2 separate regions of the Homo sapiens genome follow, and region 2 is linked to region 1. The links come from fine-mapping of genetic effects on gene expression. Tissue or cell type: whole blood. Region 1 holds a variant in brackets; the other region holds the start of a gene. All regions are shown on one strand. Distances are between the middles of the regions.

What was found. PIP is the estimated chance that this variant, and not a neighbour inherited with it, causes the effect.
Region 2: RBPMS2 starts here. The variant in region 1 is fine-mapped to the expression of RBPMS2 in whole blood (INTERVAL, PIP above 0.99).

The regions. Positions count from the first base shown.
Region 1 is chr15:64,797,575-64,805,675 of GRCh38, reverse strand. No RefSeq gene overlaps it. Among named protein-coding and RNA genes, the nearest start is that of PIF1, 24 kb to the left of the region's middle. RefSeq lists an enhancer at 5,512-6,414. The variant T/C (reference allele first, on the strand shown) is at 4,744.
Region 2 is chr15:64,771,102-64,779,202 of GRCh38, reverse strand. RBPMS2 (RNA binding protein, mRNA processing factor 2) reads left to right here and starts at 3,614. Exons shown (of 8, transcript NM_194272.3): 1 at 3,614-3,970. The coding sequence starts at 3,884. RefSeq lists enhancers at 2,061-2,906, 2,907-3,753, 7,562-8,063 and a silencer at 3,189-3,438.

The DNA of each region.
Region 1 (8,101 bases):
GCACTCCAGCCTGAAGGACAGAGCAAGATCCTGTCTCAAAAAAAGAAAAGAAAAGGCCAGGCATGGTGGCTCACGCCTGTAATCCCAACGCTTTGGGAGACCAAGGCAGGTGGATCACAAGGTCAGGAGTTCAAGACCAGCCTGGCCAAGATGGTGAAACCCCATCTCTACTAAAAAAATACAAAAATTACCGGGCGTGGTGGTGGGTGCTTGTAATCCCAGCTACTCCGGAGGCTGAGGCAGAGAATAGCTTGAACCTGAGAGGCGGAGGTTGCAGTGAGCCGAGATCGCGCCACTGCACTCCAGCCTGGGCGACAGGGCAAGACTGTCTCAAAAAAAAAAAAAAAAAGAAAAGAAAAAAAAAGAAAGGACTGGGCACAGTGGCTCACACCTGTAATCCCAGCACTTTGGGAGGTCAAGGCAGATGGATCACTTGAGGTCAGGGGTTCAAGACCAGCCTGGCCAACATGGTGAAACCCTGTCTCTACTGAAAATGCAAAAATTAGCTGGGCGTGGTGATGCGAGCCTGTAGTCCCAGCTACTTGGGAGGCTGAGGCAGGAGAATCACTTGAACCCAGGAGGTAGAGGTTGCAGTGAGCCAAGATTACACCACTGCACTCCAGTCTGGGTGACAGCGAGACTCCATCTCGAAAAAAAAAAAAAAGAAAGAAAGAAAGAAAAGAAAAAAATTAGCCCAGTGCAGTAGCACACACCTGTGGTCCCAGCTACTTGGGAGGCTGAGGTGGGAGGATTGCTTGAGCCTGGGAGTCAAGGCTTCAGTGAGCCGAGATTGTGCCACTGCACTCCAACCTGGGTTACAGAGCAAGCCTTGTCTCTAAATAAATAAATAAATAAATAAATAAATAAATAAATAAAAGAATGGTCCCCATTTCCTCATCACATGCATTCAGCACATCCCTCCTGCAGTCTTGGACCCTGGCTGAGTTTCCTCATCTGACACACAGCAATGACAATCCTCCCTTGAAGGGTCTGTGGTGTGAACACCCAGTGGGACACACCCGTGGGGCTTGGGAAATGCTGATGGCTTAACCAGCAGTCCCAGCTTTTCTGCACTGAACAGAAAGCCTACTCGTCCCACCTCACTCTCCTTCATCCAAGTTGACCAGGTCCTCCAAGTTTGGTTCAAGTCTTCTTTTCCTCCAAAAAGGCCAGTTCAGTTCCCCTCTGTGAACTGGAGCTCCTACAGGGCTGGACTTCCACTTGCCTGCCTCCATCAGCAGCTCCTACCATCCTGTGGGAATGCAGAGCTAGGGGCTCCAGGAGACCCAGCTACTAGGACATTTGATGAGGAAGTGGCTGGGTCTGAGGGCTCATTCCCACAGAACATGACTCCTCCTGCCCCAGAGCTGTTTTTGACACGGGATTATCTTTGACCTTCAGAAACATCCTTGCTGCCAACTCTAAAAAAGCTCAGAGTTGGCCAGTCGCGGTGGCTCATGCTTGTAATCCTAGCACTTTGGGAGGCCGAGGCAGGTGGATCACGAGGTCAAGAGATCAAGACCATCCCTGGCCAACATGGTGAAATCCCATCTCTACTAAAAATACAAAAAAATTAGCTGGGCATGGTGGCATGCACCTGTAGTCCCAGCTACCCAGGAGACTGAGGCGGGAGAACCACTTGAACCGAGGAGGCAGAGGTTGCACTGAGCCAAGATCGTGCCACTGCTCTCCAGTCTGGCGACAGAGCGAGACTCTGTCTCAAGGAAAAAAAAAAAAACAAACAAACCCAGAGTTGGGCTTCAGGACATACACTCAGCTGGAGGTTTTAGACCCCATCTTACCCTGTTTCAGTGATTGACCAAATGAATGTTCAGGGCCAGATGACCTTCCCCAAAGGCACAGGAAGGAATAGCTAGCAGGAAATACAATTTGTTAGAAGATACCACTAAGGGAAGAGAAGCCAGAACCTACCAGTTTGGCATCTTCCTACTCTGGGGTCTGAACTGCATCAGCCACTTACTTCAAGCCTCAGTTTTCTCATCAGTAAAATGGGAATAATGATACCGATTTCATCCTACATGAGAATTAAATGATATATGCAAAGTGCTTTGCTTTGCATTTATCAGATGGATCCCCTGTTTCAATAAGAACTGTAGCTACTATTTTTTGTTCTTTTTTTTTTTTTTTTTTGAGATGGAGTTTCACTCTTGTCGTCCAGGCTGGAGTAGAATGGCGCAATCTCAGCTCACTGCAACCTCTGCCTCTCGGGTTCAAGAGATTATTCTGCCTCAGCCTCCCGAGTAGCTGGGATTACAGATGCCTGCCACCGCACCCGGCTAATTTTTGTATTTTTAGTAGAGACGGGGTTTCATCATATTGATCAGGCTGGTCTCAAACTCCTGACCTCAAGTGATCCGCCTGTCTCAGCCTCACAAAGTGCTGGGATTACAGGCGTGAGCCACCGTGCCCAGCCTCAGCCTAATTTTTTGTATTTTTAGTAGAGTCAGGGGCTTCACCATGTCGGCCAGGCTGGTCTCAAACTCCTGACCTCAGGTGATCCACCCACCTCGGCCTCCCAAAATGCTGGTATTACAGATGTGAGCCACCACACCCGGCCCATTTTTTGTTCATTTATGAAGTGCCAGGCCTTGAGCTAAACACTTTGCATATATTATTATGAAGTGACATAAATGAACAAAAAATTCATTGACAAGGTGGGAGGGGAGTGTGCGGAAGTGGAGAGGCACAAACGCAGAGTTTGCTTAGCCAGAGGTGGGCAGGCGGTGAATAGCTAGAGTAAAATCACAACGTCCCAAGTGTGGTGCTAAGCAGTCTACATACATTATTCCATTTATTTGTTTATTTTTATTTTGTTTATTTATTTATTTTGAAACTGAGTCTTGCTCTCTTGCCCAGGCTGAAGTGCAGTGGCATGATCTCGGCTCACTGCAACCTCTGCCTCCCAGGTTCAAGTGATTCTTCTGCCTCAGCCTCCCCAGTAGCTGGGACTACAGGCATGCGACACCACACCCAGCTCATTTTTGTATTTTTAGTAGAGATGGGGTTTTGCCATGTTGCTCAGGCTAGGATTGAACTCATGAGCTCTCAAGTGATCTGCCCACCTGGGCCTCCCAAAGTGCTGGGATTACAGGCATGAGCCACTGCACCCAGCCCATTATTTCATTTAAATCTCAGCTTCTTCCTCTGTCAAAAGTAGTGGTTTTGAACAGAAGCTTCCCAAGTCCTTTCTAGTTTAGTGAGTACTTACAGAATGTTTTAAATCTACAAAGTATTTTTCACTTTATAGCGCCGACCACTATTTAGTTCTGTGTTCTAATAGTTGTCAGTGGCTGCACAAGTAGATGCAGAACTAGAACCAGGGAGGATGGCTAGGTTTTTCCCCAGAGCCCAGTGGCAGGAGGCTCTGAGCCCGGTGGGCAAGAGCTGAAGGCCCACACGGGCCAGGGAGGGCACGCCCCTTGAAGGCAACGACGTCATGGAAGCTTGGCTCTGGCTTCCAGCCAGCATCCGGTTCTATCTGGTTGTGCTGGGGCCCAGAGGACTGGGTCTGGAACTCATCAGCCCCACCTGTCAGCCCTCCCCTGGCCGGCAAGCAGGGGCCTTTGGTTATCACTAAGGAGAGTGAGGCTGAGGGTGAGCTGAACATGGGCACAATCCAGAGGCCCAATATCCCATCCCCGCTGGACAACTCAGGGGAGGGGGCTGTGTTCCTCAGCCAGGCACCCGCAATTTGACTGAGCTCTATTATGTGACAGGCACCATGAAGTATGCAAAGACCTCATTTATTCATTCAGTAAATATTTATTGAACACTTAACAGTGTGCCTGGCCCTGAGCTGGTTCCAGAGAATCACAAAAATTCCTGCCTGGCCAGGCGCGGTGGCTCACGCCTGTAATCCCAGCACTTTGGGAGGCCTAGATGGGAGGATCCCTTGAGCCCAAGAGTTTGAGCCCAGCCTGGACAACATAGTGAGATCCTATCTCTAAATTTTTTTTTTTTGAGACACAGTCTCACTCTGTTGCCAGGCTGGAGTGCAGTGGTGCTTAGTAGAGACAGGGTTTCACCATGTTGGCCAGGATGGCCTCGATCTCTTGACCTCATGATCCACCTGCCTCAGCCTCCCAAAGTGCTGGGATTACAAGCGTGAAAAAAAAAATTTTAAGGTTAAAAAAGTAAAAAAAGGTCGGGTACGGTGGCTCACACCTGTAATCCCAGTACTTTGGGAAGCTGAGGCAGGTGGATCACGAGGTCAGGAGATTGAGACCATCCTTGCTAGCACAGTGAAACCCCATCACTACTAAAAATACAAAAAATTAGCCGGGCGTGGTGGCGGGCGCCTGTAGTCCCAGCTACTCTAGAGGCTGAGGCAGGAGAATGGCATGAACCCGGTAGGCGGAGTTTGCAGTGAGCAGAGATCGCCACTGCACTCCAGCCTGGGCGACACAGCGAGACTCCGTCTCAAAAAAAAAAAAAAAAGTAAAAAAAAAAGTCTGGCTCTATTCTAGTAGAAGAAGCTGTAAAATAAAGCAGAAATGTGATGGGAAATTAAAAAGAGAGTGATTCACTTTACATAGAGTAGTCAGAGAAGGCCCCTTTGAGCTGAGGGAGGAAAGTAGAGCTAGAAAGACCATTCTAGACAAAGGAAAAATTGTGCAAAGACCCCAAGGCAGGAAAATTTGGAGTGTTTGGAGAGTTGTAAGACAAATGGAAGGTGGGCACACACTAAGCTCTTCCTCAATAAATGCCAGCTAAAGAAATTAA[T/C]AAATGATTGTAAGGATTTCTGCTTCTAGACAAGATGATTTACATTCCCACCTAAAAACAACTAAAATACTCCCCAAAGTATGTGAAACATGGTTCTCAAGACATTGAAACCCATAAGATGAAAAATAGTGATTCCAGAGAGTCAGCAAACAAATGAGGAAAACCCTACAAATGCCCCACCTTGCTGCCTAAAGAAAATTTCCAGGGCCGGGCACCGTGACTCACACTTGTAATCCCAGCACTTTCAGAGGCCAAGGTGGAAGGATCATTTGAGACCAGCCTGGGCAGCATAGTGAGACCCTGTCTCTGCAAAAACAAATGTAAAACAGGCAGGCATGTGCCTGTTTTACAATGTAAATGTAAACAAATGTAAAACAGGTGGCAAGTGCCTGAAGTCCCAGCTATTTAGGAGGCTGAGGCAGGAGGATCACTTGAGCCCAGGAGGTCAAGGCTACAGTGAGCTATGATAATGCCACTGCACTCCAGCCTGGTAACAGAGCAAGGCCCTGTCTCCAAAACATTATATTAATAATATAATTTGGCCGGGCATGGTGGCTCACACCTGTGATCCCAGCACTTTGGGAGGCCAAGGCAGGCAAATCACCTTAGTTTAGGAGTTTGAGACCAGCCTGGCCAACATGGAGAAACCCCGTCTTTACTAAAAATACAAAAATTAGCCAGGTTTGGTGGCAGGCCCCTATAATCCCATGTACTTAGGAGGCTGAGGCAGGAGAATCGCTTGAACCTGGGAGGCAGAAGTTGCAGTGAGCTGAGACCCACGCCATTGCACTCCATCCAGGGCAACAAGAGCGGAACTCCGTCTCAAAAAAAAAAATGTACCTCTCCCTCTCCCCCTCCCCCTCCCCCTCTCCCTACGGTCTCCCTCTCCCTCTCTTTCCACGGTCTCCCTCTGATGCCGAGCCGAAGCTGGACTGTACTGCTGCCATCTCGGCTCACTGCAACCTCCCTGCCTGATTCTCCTGCCTCAGCCTGCCGAGTGCCTGCGATTGCAGGCGCGCGCCGCCACGCCTGACTGGTTTTCGTATTTTTTTGGTGGAGACGTGGTTTCGCTGTGTTGGCCAGGCTGGTCTCCAGCTCCTAACCGCGAGTGATCCGCCAGCCTCAGCCTCCGGAGGTGCCGGGATTGCAGACGGTGTCTGGTTCACTCAGTGCTCAATGGTGCCCAGGCTGAAGTGCAGTGGCGTGATCTCGGCTTGCTACAACCTCCACCTCCCAGCCGCCTGCCTTGGCCTCCCAAAGTGCCCAGAGTGCAGCCTCTGCCCGGCCGCCACCCCGTCTAGGAAGTGAGGAGCGTCTCTGCCTGGCCGCCCATCGTCTGGGATGTGAGGAGCCCCTCTGCCTGGCTGCCCAGTCTGGAAAGTGAGGAGCGTCTCTGCTGGGCCGCCATCCCATCTAGGAAGTGAGGAGCGCCTCTTCCCGGCCGCCATCCCATCTAGGAAGTGAGGAGCGTCTCTGCCCGGCCACCCATCGTCTGAGATGTGGGGAGCGCCTTTGCCCCGCCGCCCCGTCTGGGATGTGAGGAGCGCCTCTGCCCGGCCGCGACCCCGTCTGGGAGGTGAGGAGCGTCTCTGCCCAGCCACCCCGTCTGAGAAGGGAGGAGACCCTCCGCCTGGCAGCCGCCCCATCTGAGAAGTGAGGAGCCCCTCCGCCCGGCAGCCGCCCCATCTGAGAATTGAGGAGCCCCTCCGCCCGGCAGCCACCCCGTCTGGGAAGTGAGGAGCGTCTCCGCCCGGCAGCCGCCCCGTCCGGGAGGGAGGTGGGGGTCAGCCCCCGCCAGGCCAGCCACCCCGTCCAGGAGGGAGGTGGGGATCAGCCCCCCGCCCGGCCAGCCGCCCCGTCCGGGAGGGAGGTGGGGAGGTCAGCCCCCCACCCGGCCAGCCACGCCGTCCGGGAGGTGAGGGGCTCCTCTGCCCGGCCGCCCCTACTGGGAAGTGAGGAGCCCCTCTGCCCGGCCACCACCCCGTCTGGGAGGTGTGCCCAACAGCTCATTGAGAACGGGCCATGATGACAATGGTGGTTTTGTGGAATAGAAAGCGGGGAAAGGTGGGGAAAAGATTGAGAAATCGGATGGTTGCCGTGTCTGTGTGGAAAGGAGTAGACATGGGAGACTTTTCATTTTGTTCTGTACTAAGAAAAAGTCTTCTGCCTTGGGATCCTGTTGATCTGTGACCTTACCCCCCAACCCTGTGCTCTCTGAAACATGTGCTGTGTCCACTCAGGGTTAAATGGATTAAGGGCAGTGCAAGATGTGCTTTGTTAAACAGATGCTTGAGGGCAGCATGCTCTAAGAGTCATCACCACTCCCTAATCTCAAGTACCCAGGGACACAAACACTGCGGAAGGCCTCAGGGTCCTCTGCCTAGGAAAACCAGAGACCTTTGTTCACTTGTTTATCTGCTGACCTTCCCTCCACTATTGTCCTATGACCCTGCCAAATCCCCCTCTGTGAGAAACACCCAAGAATGATCAATAAAAAAAAAAAAAAGTAAAAAAAAAAAAAAAAGTATATATAAAAAAAGAATCAGCCGGGCGCGGTTGCTCATGCCTGTAATCCCAGCACTTTGGGAGACCAAGGCAAGCAGATCACAGGGTCAGGAGTTCGAGACCAGCCTGGCCAATATGGTGAAACCCCATCTCTACTAAAAATACAAAAATTAGCTGGGCGTGGTGGTGTGTGCCTGTAGTCTCAGCTACTCAGGAGGCTGAGGCAGAAGAATCGCTTGAACTTGGGAGGCAGAGGTTGCTGTGAGCTGAGATTGCGCCACTGCACTCCAGCCTGGGCAACAGAGTGAGACTTCGTCTGAAAACAAACAAACAAACAAACAAAATCTCCATTGGATAGGAGAGTATTACAAGAAATTAAAAAGAAAAAATTTTAAATAAAGAAAGAAAAGAAAAAAAATCCAGTACCTAACAAAGTAAAATTGGCAGTGTCTGACATCCAACAGAAATTAGCATGTATACAAAGAGACAGGAAAACATGACCCCTAAGAAAAATAAAAACCAATCAATTTAAATCTACTCAAGGTGAAGCATGGTGGCCCATGCCTGTAATCCAGCACTTTGGGACTTGAGGTCAGGAGTTCGAGACCAGCTTGGCCAACATTATGAAATCCCATCTCTACTAAAAATACAAAAAAATTAGCAGAACATGGTGACCCACCTGTAATCTCAGCTACTAGGGAGGCTGAGGCAGGAGAATCTCTTGTACCTGGGAGGTGGAGGTTACAGTGAACTAAGATTGTGCCATTGCACTCCAGCCTGGGCAACAGAGCTAGACTCCATCTCAAAGAAAACTATAGACTAATATCTCTTATCAATATGGATGCAAAAATCC
Region 2 (8,101 bases), 26 kb after region 1:
TCGAGAAGCTCAGAGGTGATATGGAGCATGACAGTGGGGGAGGCCTGGGGCACTGAAGAGATTACTAGAGGCTACACTACTAGGTCATAGCTGGGGAGACAGAGATATAAGTTCCTACCCTTCAGATGTCTGAAAGAGTTGTACACCCCAAACTCCTCTCTCTAGCCTCTTTCACATCAGCTTCTGGTCAGCACCAATGGGTACGCCTGACTACTCATGAAGGTGCGGGCTGGGTGGGAGCTTTGTGTTTATATGATCTCCAAATCCATGTGAGATTGGAGATTCTGCCATTTCAGGGGCCATAGGGGTGCACAGAGAGGGAAAAGACAGTTGTTGCCTCCAAAGTGCTTAAGGGCTGGTCACACATACAGGAAACTTTCTGAGGCATTAAGAATGCTCATATAAGAGGGCGGGCTCATGCCTGTAATCTCAGCACTTTGAGAGGCCAAGGTGAGCAGATTACTTGAGGCCAGGAGTTCAAGACCAGCCTGGCCAACACGGTGAAACCTTGTCCCTACTAAAAATACAAAAATTAGCCAGGTGTGACAGCGAGTGTGGTGGCAGGCACCTGTAATCCCAGCTACTCAGGAGGCTGAGGCACGAGAACTGCTCGAACCTGGGAGATGGAGGATGCACTGCACTCAAGCCTGGTGACATAGTGAGACTCCGTCTCAAAGAAAAAGAAAAAAAAAAGAATCCTCATATAAAGTTTGCCTATGAAGGCAAAAGAGAAAATAAACTGGAAATAATACAAATATCTAACAAGAGACAGGTTAAATAAGTAATGGCAGTCTAATAAGGGGTAAGCATTTACTACAAATTATGAAGAACTTAAGAAGAAATACAGGCTGGGTGTGGTGGCTCACGCCTATAATACCAGCACTTTGGGAGGCCAAGGTGGGAGGATCACTTGAGCCCAGGAGTTCAACACCAGCTTGGGACAACATAATGAGAGGCCAGTCTCTTAAAAAAAAAAAAAAAAAATTAGCTGGGCGTGGTGTTGCACCTGTAATCACAGCTACCTGGGAGGCTGAGGTAGAAGGATCACTTGAGCCCAGGAGTTCAAGGCTGGAGTGAGCTGTGATTGTGCCACTGCACTCCAGCTTGGGTGACAGAGCAAGATCTTTTTTCTAAAAAAAGAAAAGAAGGCCGGGCGCGGTGGCTCACGCCTGTAATCTCAGCACTTTGGGAGGCTGATGGGGGCAGATTACAAGGTCAAGAGATCAAGATCATCCTCACCAACATGGGGAAACCGTCTCTACTAAAAATACAAAAGTTAGCTGGGCGTGGTTGTGCGTTCCTGTAGTCCCAGCTACTCAGGAGGCTGAGGCAGAATAGCTTGAAACTGGGAGGTGGAGGTTGCAGTGAGCCGAGATCGCATCACTGCACTCCAGTCTGGCAACAGAGCAAGACTGCATCTCAAAAAAGCCCCCAAAACAAAAAAAAAAAAAATGAAAAAAGAAAAGAAATGTAGTGATGGGGGTCAGTTGTGGCCCCTGTGTCATTTGTCACCTTTTTGGGCCTTAGCTCTCCCATCTATGGAGAAAACAGAGACCAGAATGGAGAAGAAGGGTGACCAGAATTACAAGATGAGAGGCTCTTCTTTGAAAAATTCAAATTAACCATATAATGGCTGAGTTCAGAAATCTGGCCAGGCTCCTTCTCCTGGAAAAAGCATGGGAAAGGCAGGATCTTGAGGGAAGGGAAGATTTTGGATTGATTAGGGGGAGCGGGGGAGGAAGAGGAAGAGGAAGAGTATTCCTGGGCCAAAGTTAGAGACAAACCTGATAGGAAGACCTATTCTAGGGGAGGGGATGGTGATCAAGCCCACAGCCAGATTGGACTGAGGCCTGTGGAGGATGGTAGGGGTATCTGAGGGTTCCCAAGGTTGGTTCTATCTGGAGATGCCTGAGGCTGGAGGCATCTTAAAAACTCTGGGTAAAGGTCTGGCTCCTACAGGCAGCAGCTCCCTCTTCATAGGGCCTGAGCCAAGTGTTGGCAACAGGGCTGATGGGAAACCAGGGTGCTCTTGGCCTTGCCACCAGCAGAAAATGGTCCCCAGCCCACAGTAGGTGCTCAATAATTATTTACTAAAGGAATGAGTATATCATTGGAAAGACATTGCCCATCTCTAGGCCTCAATTTATCTGTGAGATGGCAGGTCAGGATGGAGATTATAATTTACTGGGAAGACTAAGCCACAGCACAGTGATCCTGTGGTGCTAGTCCTACCTAATTCAGGAGGTCGACACACAGAGGTTCTGGGGGCTCAGGCACTTGTCCACGGTCTGGGATCCTAACCAGTCCGTGACTGCAAATCCAGCTTTTCTTTTTTCTTTTCTTTTTTTGAGACGGAGTTTCGCTCTTGTTGCCCTGGCTGGAGTGCAATGGCAAGATCTCGGGTCACCGCAACCTCCGCCCCGTCCAGGAGAAGGGGCACTGAGGAGGGACCCAGTTCTCCCGCGGCTCTGCCGGATTCAGGCTGCAGCGCTTCCAGCGCTCCCCGAGGTGGGTGCGGGTTTCTACTGTGGCAGCAGGGCGGGCCCCCATCGGCTGGGTTTTCAAATAGAAGAGAAAACCGACCCAGAGGCCGCGCCCTACTGACCTGCGCGGGGGTGCGGGGGGAGTCACGACGACCTCCCCCACCTCCCCCAGCCTCTAGGCTATTACATCCGTCCCCAGCCTTCGGGCTCAGAATAGGAGGCAGGGAAAGGTGTGAGGGGCACTGAGGTCGGGGGAGGAGCGAGAAGACCCGAAAGCCAGGCGTGTTGAGGGCAAGGTGGGCAACAGAACCTTCTTGGTCATTCGAGGCAGCCCTCGCTAATGACCATTGGGGTCCCAACACTCGAATCCCCACCTAAGTCCTATTCAGATAGTGACTGGGAGTGGGAAGGGAGTTTGAGATCCTAAGTCCCACCCTCTGGGCTGGGAGCCTGAGGCCAGAGAGGGGAAGTGATTTCCTCAAGGTCACTCAGCAAAACAGCGCCCAGCCCGGGCCAAAGCTCAGGTGTCTCCCAACCCCCTCCCCCCGGCCATCACCCCCAGAACTCGGTCCCCCGGAGCTGAGGTCTGCGCGACTGGATTTAGGGGCAGAATGAGTGCGTCGGGAACCCCAAAACCCTAGATCAAGATACAAGGGGAGTCGACGGCCCGGAAACCTCGCTGCGGGTGCCCTAAGCGCGAGGCCGCCCGGGCAGGGCCGCCCAGGGACCGGGGCGCTGGGTGCGGGGCACGGGGCTCCACCTCCCGCGGGCTGGGGCGCGCAGCGCGCGGCCCCTTTAAGAAAGTTCGCCGGGCGAGTTCATCAAAGTTTAAAAACTCGCCGTGGAGAAGGGCGCGGGGGAAGAGGAGAGAGGGAGAGCGCTGACCCAGGCGAGAGAGAGGGGAAAGGCCCGGCCGGAGGCCGGCGCCCCGCGGCCGGGGCCGGGGCGAGCCCACGGTGGGCGGTGGGGATTGGCTGCGCGTTCCCCCGGAGACCGCGCGGCGGGCGGGGGAGGGGGCTGGCCGGGCCCCAGCTGAGGCCGGTTCCGGCCCCGCCCCCCGCCGCCGGCGCCCGCCCCCTCCCCCGGCGCCCGCCCCCCGCCGCCGCTGCCGCCGCCGCCGCCGCCGCGGCGCACTCGCCGGTCGCAGTGAAAAGGCGGAGGCGGCGGCCCCTCCGGCTCCCACTGCCTCCCCCGCCGCACCCCCTCCCCACCTTCCGCACCCGCCAAACTTGATGTGACCCTGGCCCGACGCGGAGGCTGCCCCTCTCACTGCCCCGTGGGTCCCCCGCCACCCGCTCCGCACCCGCGAGCGCACCGCTCCCCGCGCCCCTTCCCACTTCCCGCGGGGCCGGCGCCGCGCTCGCCCTCGCGTTCCTTCCCGCCGCCCCCTCCCCCGCACCATGAGCAACCTGAAGCCGGACGGCGAGCACGGCGGCAGCACCGGCACCGGCTCCGGCGCGGGCTCCGGCGGCGCCCTGGAGGAGGAGGTGGGTCTGTGGCCCCGGGACTTGCCGGGTGAAGCGCACGCCAGGCGGGCGCGGGAGAGGGCGAGCGGGGCCTGCCGCGCCTCGCGGGGCCGGGGTGGCCATCGCTCCCGGCGCCTTCCCGCCGCTGCCCTCTCGCCCGGGTAGGAGCGGCCCGTGTCCGCGGGCGGGAGCGTGCGGCCTGGACTGCCCCGCCGGACAGGCATTGTCTCCCCGCCCTCTCGGGCTCGAGGCGGGCCGCGCGCGCCGGCCGCCGTCCGGGCGTCCCGCGGTGGGCGAGATGCGCCGCGTCCGTTCCATGCCTGCCGCCCGCGCGCCCCTTGCTCCCCACCCCGTAGCCGCTCGCCGCCCTCCTCCGAGGCGCACCTCCTGCGTGGCCAGGACCCCGCCTCGGCGGCACGGAGCGGAGCGGGATTAGCACGGCCCGAGGGCGGCACCCTCACTCCACTGCCTTTTCCGCCCTGACCCCCTCCCCGTGACCTTGGAGGCCTGGGCCGGCCGGCTCCTCGGTTCCTGCGAGCTGTTGTCATGGGGGTGGGCGGGCTTTCTTCACAGCCCCAGAACCTGGGCTTTGGCAGAGGTGAGCCCACAATTTAATTAGTTTGGAAGATGACTAAAGACACTCAGTTCGTCCTTCTCCTCTCTCTGGGTTTGTCCTGGCAACCAAGCCAGGACCCCAAAGCTGGCCTGGGTGGGATCCTGCCAGGAGGGGCGAAATCATCTCGTCCACCGGCCATGTGCGAAAGGGAGGGAGTGTAAGGCGGCTCCGTGGAACCACCAGCAGCTGGGTGGTTAATGGATGGTAGGGAGGATGTGTGTGCGGGGTGGGGTGCTGGATAAAAGCCTCAAAGATATCAGTGAATAGGGACGAGGAGCTAGGCTGGCGGAGACAAGAACTGGAGTAGAAGGGGACAGGCTTCGCAGGGCCTCTGGCCTCTGCTGCGTCATTCTAGGGGTGAGAGAGCCTTCCTGCCCCTGCCCTGGCATGTTCTCGCCCAGGAAACCAAGGGCTGGTTATCCACCTTGGGCGCCCTTCCCCTTGGCCTGGGGGAGAAACCGCAGAGCCCCTGGTGTGGACTGGTGTTGCCTCCTCCCCTTGTGCTGGGGGTTGGTGCAGAATGGCGCCGGTGGCCCTCGGCTGGGCTGGGCTCAGCGCCGCCAGCTCCCACTCGGCTATTCAGAGACCTTCAGCCAGCCCCAGTCGATGACAATCTAGGTTTGGATCTCCACTTTTTGGCGGAAGGGGAAGGGAAGAATATACAACTGTGACATCTGTCCACTAATGACTTAAGTGTGGTGGATTTGTTTGGGCTCCAGAGGCCTTGCCCTCCTTGTACCTTGATGCCAAAAGGCCCTTGGCTTTGGGGATCTTGCCCCCATCCTGACTCTACCTGGCTGTTAGAATCTCCCTTGACAGTTGGGGAGGGTGACAGGGTTGCTAGCGTACTTGGAGTCTCTGCTTGGCCCCCTGCTGTGGGCTGAAACTGGGGGAGAGCATGTCTCCTATAAAGCTGAATGGGGACCCAGAACCCCACTTCTGCTAAAGGGTCTACTTCAGTGGGGACTTCACACTGCCCAAGAGGCTGGTACTGGGCAAACCCTCAGACCCACTGCTGTTGGGTGAGAAGGGTGACCCATGTGGCCATTCTAAGTCTTGAAAAAAGCATTTGAGGTTTTAGCCACTCCTTTCTAAGTACCTTTTCTGGGAAAGAGGGCAGGATTCTCAAAAAGTGGAATCCCTACTATTCCTCCTTGGGAGTTGAGATGGCCTGCGGCCCTATGGTGGTTCCAAATCCGCGCACTTGGAAAAGGGCATGGTGGGCTCGCGTTTAGCAGAGGTCCAGAACAAAGGGTTCTGAGGGTCTCCTGGAGCCCAGTGTCTGTCTGGTCTGGTAAGGGAAAGGGTTATTCCCCAAGCCCTGGCCTAGTCTTCTGAATAGTGGGCCATGAGCCCCTGTGCTGGTGGCTCCATCTTGGATTGGTGGTGTAGGCTGGAACTGGAATCCTCCCTGTAGTTTAGATGCTCCCTAAGCAGTCAGTTCTGCAGCCCCTAAGAGCAACCATCTGGAGAATCAGCGTTAGCAGTGGTTTACTCCCATGGCTGACACAGGTGGCTTCTTCCCAGTCAACTCTTGGAGACTAGCGAGAGCAAGCCCAGGAAACCAAGGAATGCTGCTGCACGCCGTAAGACCTCAATTCCTAAAGGCGCTGGGTCACTGGCGAAGGGAGTGTATTTTTCATGGTTCTGGGAGTTATCAGTGAGGTTGCTTGTCCTGAACTGCTTTGGATAGCCTTGACTCTGCCTGCTTGACTACCTTACCTATAGGCTTTATCCATGTCATACGCATTAAGTTTTCTTTCTGGACCCAGGGGTTAAGGATACAAGTGAAAATTCTCAGCCTAGGAGGTCGGAAGGACTTGCCAGGAAGTGGTGGTAGGTGAAATGCAATGATAGATAAAATAAAGGCATATGAGCACATGGTACCATGGTGCTCCTGAGAGATTAGAGGTCAGCCTTCCCTGAGATGTGGGTGAGTAGGAGGAGCAAGGTTAGACCTGTGGGGGTGGAAAAGGCATTCCAAGAGGAGGGAGTCGCATGTATAAGTGAGGAGGTAGGTTTGTGTAACCACATGGCTTGTTTGGGTAACTACCTGGAGTTTGCTATATTGCAGCAATATCAGGCAGTGCAGCCATAATGAGAGTTTGGAATTAGGGCAGTAATGACTGTGGTATTACGGGAAAATTGGCATTTTTCTGCCACTTGGGAAGATGTGTTCGAAGCTTTGATACCCTTTGAAAGCTAAGGAGGGCAGTAAGGAATTAAGGGGAGGAGCTGAATGTCCCTCCCAATCTAGAGGTTGTGCTGTCCTGCAGGTAAGTCTTGACTGGAGCTGGGGACGACATGAGGTAATACAGTACATGAACCTGTCCGGGGCAGGCTGTATCAGTGCTGCCAAACTTCAGACCTAAATGTCCTGTCTTAGTGATTCTCAAGGGATAACTGGGTAATTACCATGTCTCTGAAGAGGGGTAAATGTGATTTCTATTTTGAAAGTGGAGACCTTGCTTTCATAATACAGTTGCTGTTGGCCTTCCATTTCTATGGGTTCCCTATCCATGAATCCAGTTGTAGATAAAAAATACAATAATAAAAAATAATACAAATAAATATAACAACTATTTACATAGCATTCACATTGTATTAGGTATTGTGAATAATCTAGAGATGAGTTAAAGTATCCAGAAAATGTGCATAGGTTATTTTTTTATTTGTTTGAAGGGGAGTTTCACTCTTGTCACCCAGGCTGGAGTGCAGTGGCACAATCTCAGCTCACTGCAACCTCTGCCTCCCAGGTTCAAGCAATTCTCCTGCCTCAGCCTCCTGAGTAGCTGGGATTACAGGTGCCCGCCACCATACCTGGCTAATTTTTGTTTTTTAGTAGAGACAGGATTTCACCATGTTGGCCAGGCTGGTCTTGAACTCCTGTCCTCAGGTGACCTGCCCACCTCAGTCTCCCAAAGTGCTGGGATTACAGGCCTGAGCCACGGCGCCCAGCCTTGTTTTGTTTTTGAGACAGTCTCTGTTGCCCAGATTGGGGTGCAGTGGCGCAATCTCGGCTCACTGCAACCTCCTCCCAGGTTCAAGTGATTCTCCTGCCTCAGCCTCCAGGATTGCAGGTGCACGCCACCATGCCTGGCTAATTTTTGTATTTTTAGTAGAGACGGGGTTTCACCATGTTGGCCAGGCTGGTCTTGAACTCCTGACCTCAAGTGGTCCATCCAGCTCGGCCTCCCAAAGTGCTGAGATTACAGACGTGAGCCACCGTGCCCGGCCTGTGCATAGGTTATATACAAATTTTATATAAGAGACTTGAACATCTGGAGATGTTGATATCCAAGGGGGAACCCTGGAACCAATCCGCCTCAGATATCGAGGGACAACTAAACGGTACGAGGTGATACTAAGTTATAGTAATTTTTAAAAACCACTTTTTTGAGGTATGATTGGCATATATAAAGGTGTATATTTAGTGTATACAACTTGAAGAGTTTGGAGATTGTTAAAGTAATTTTTAACTGGGGGGCACCCCTGGAAGGGGGAGAGTGGTATTTATACTATTGGGTTGAGGGAGG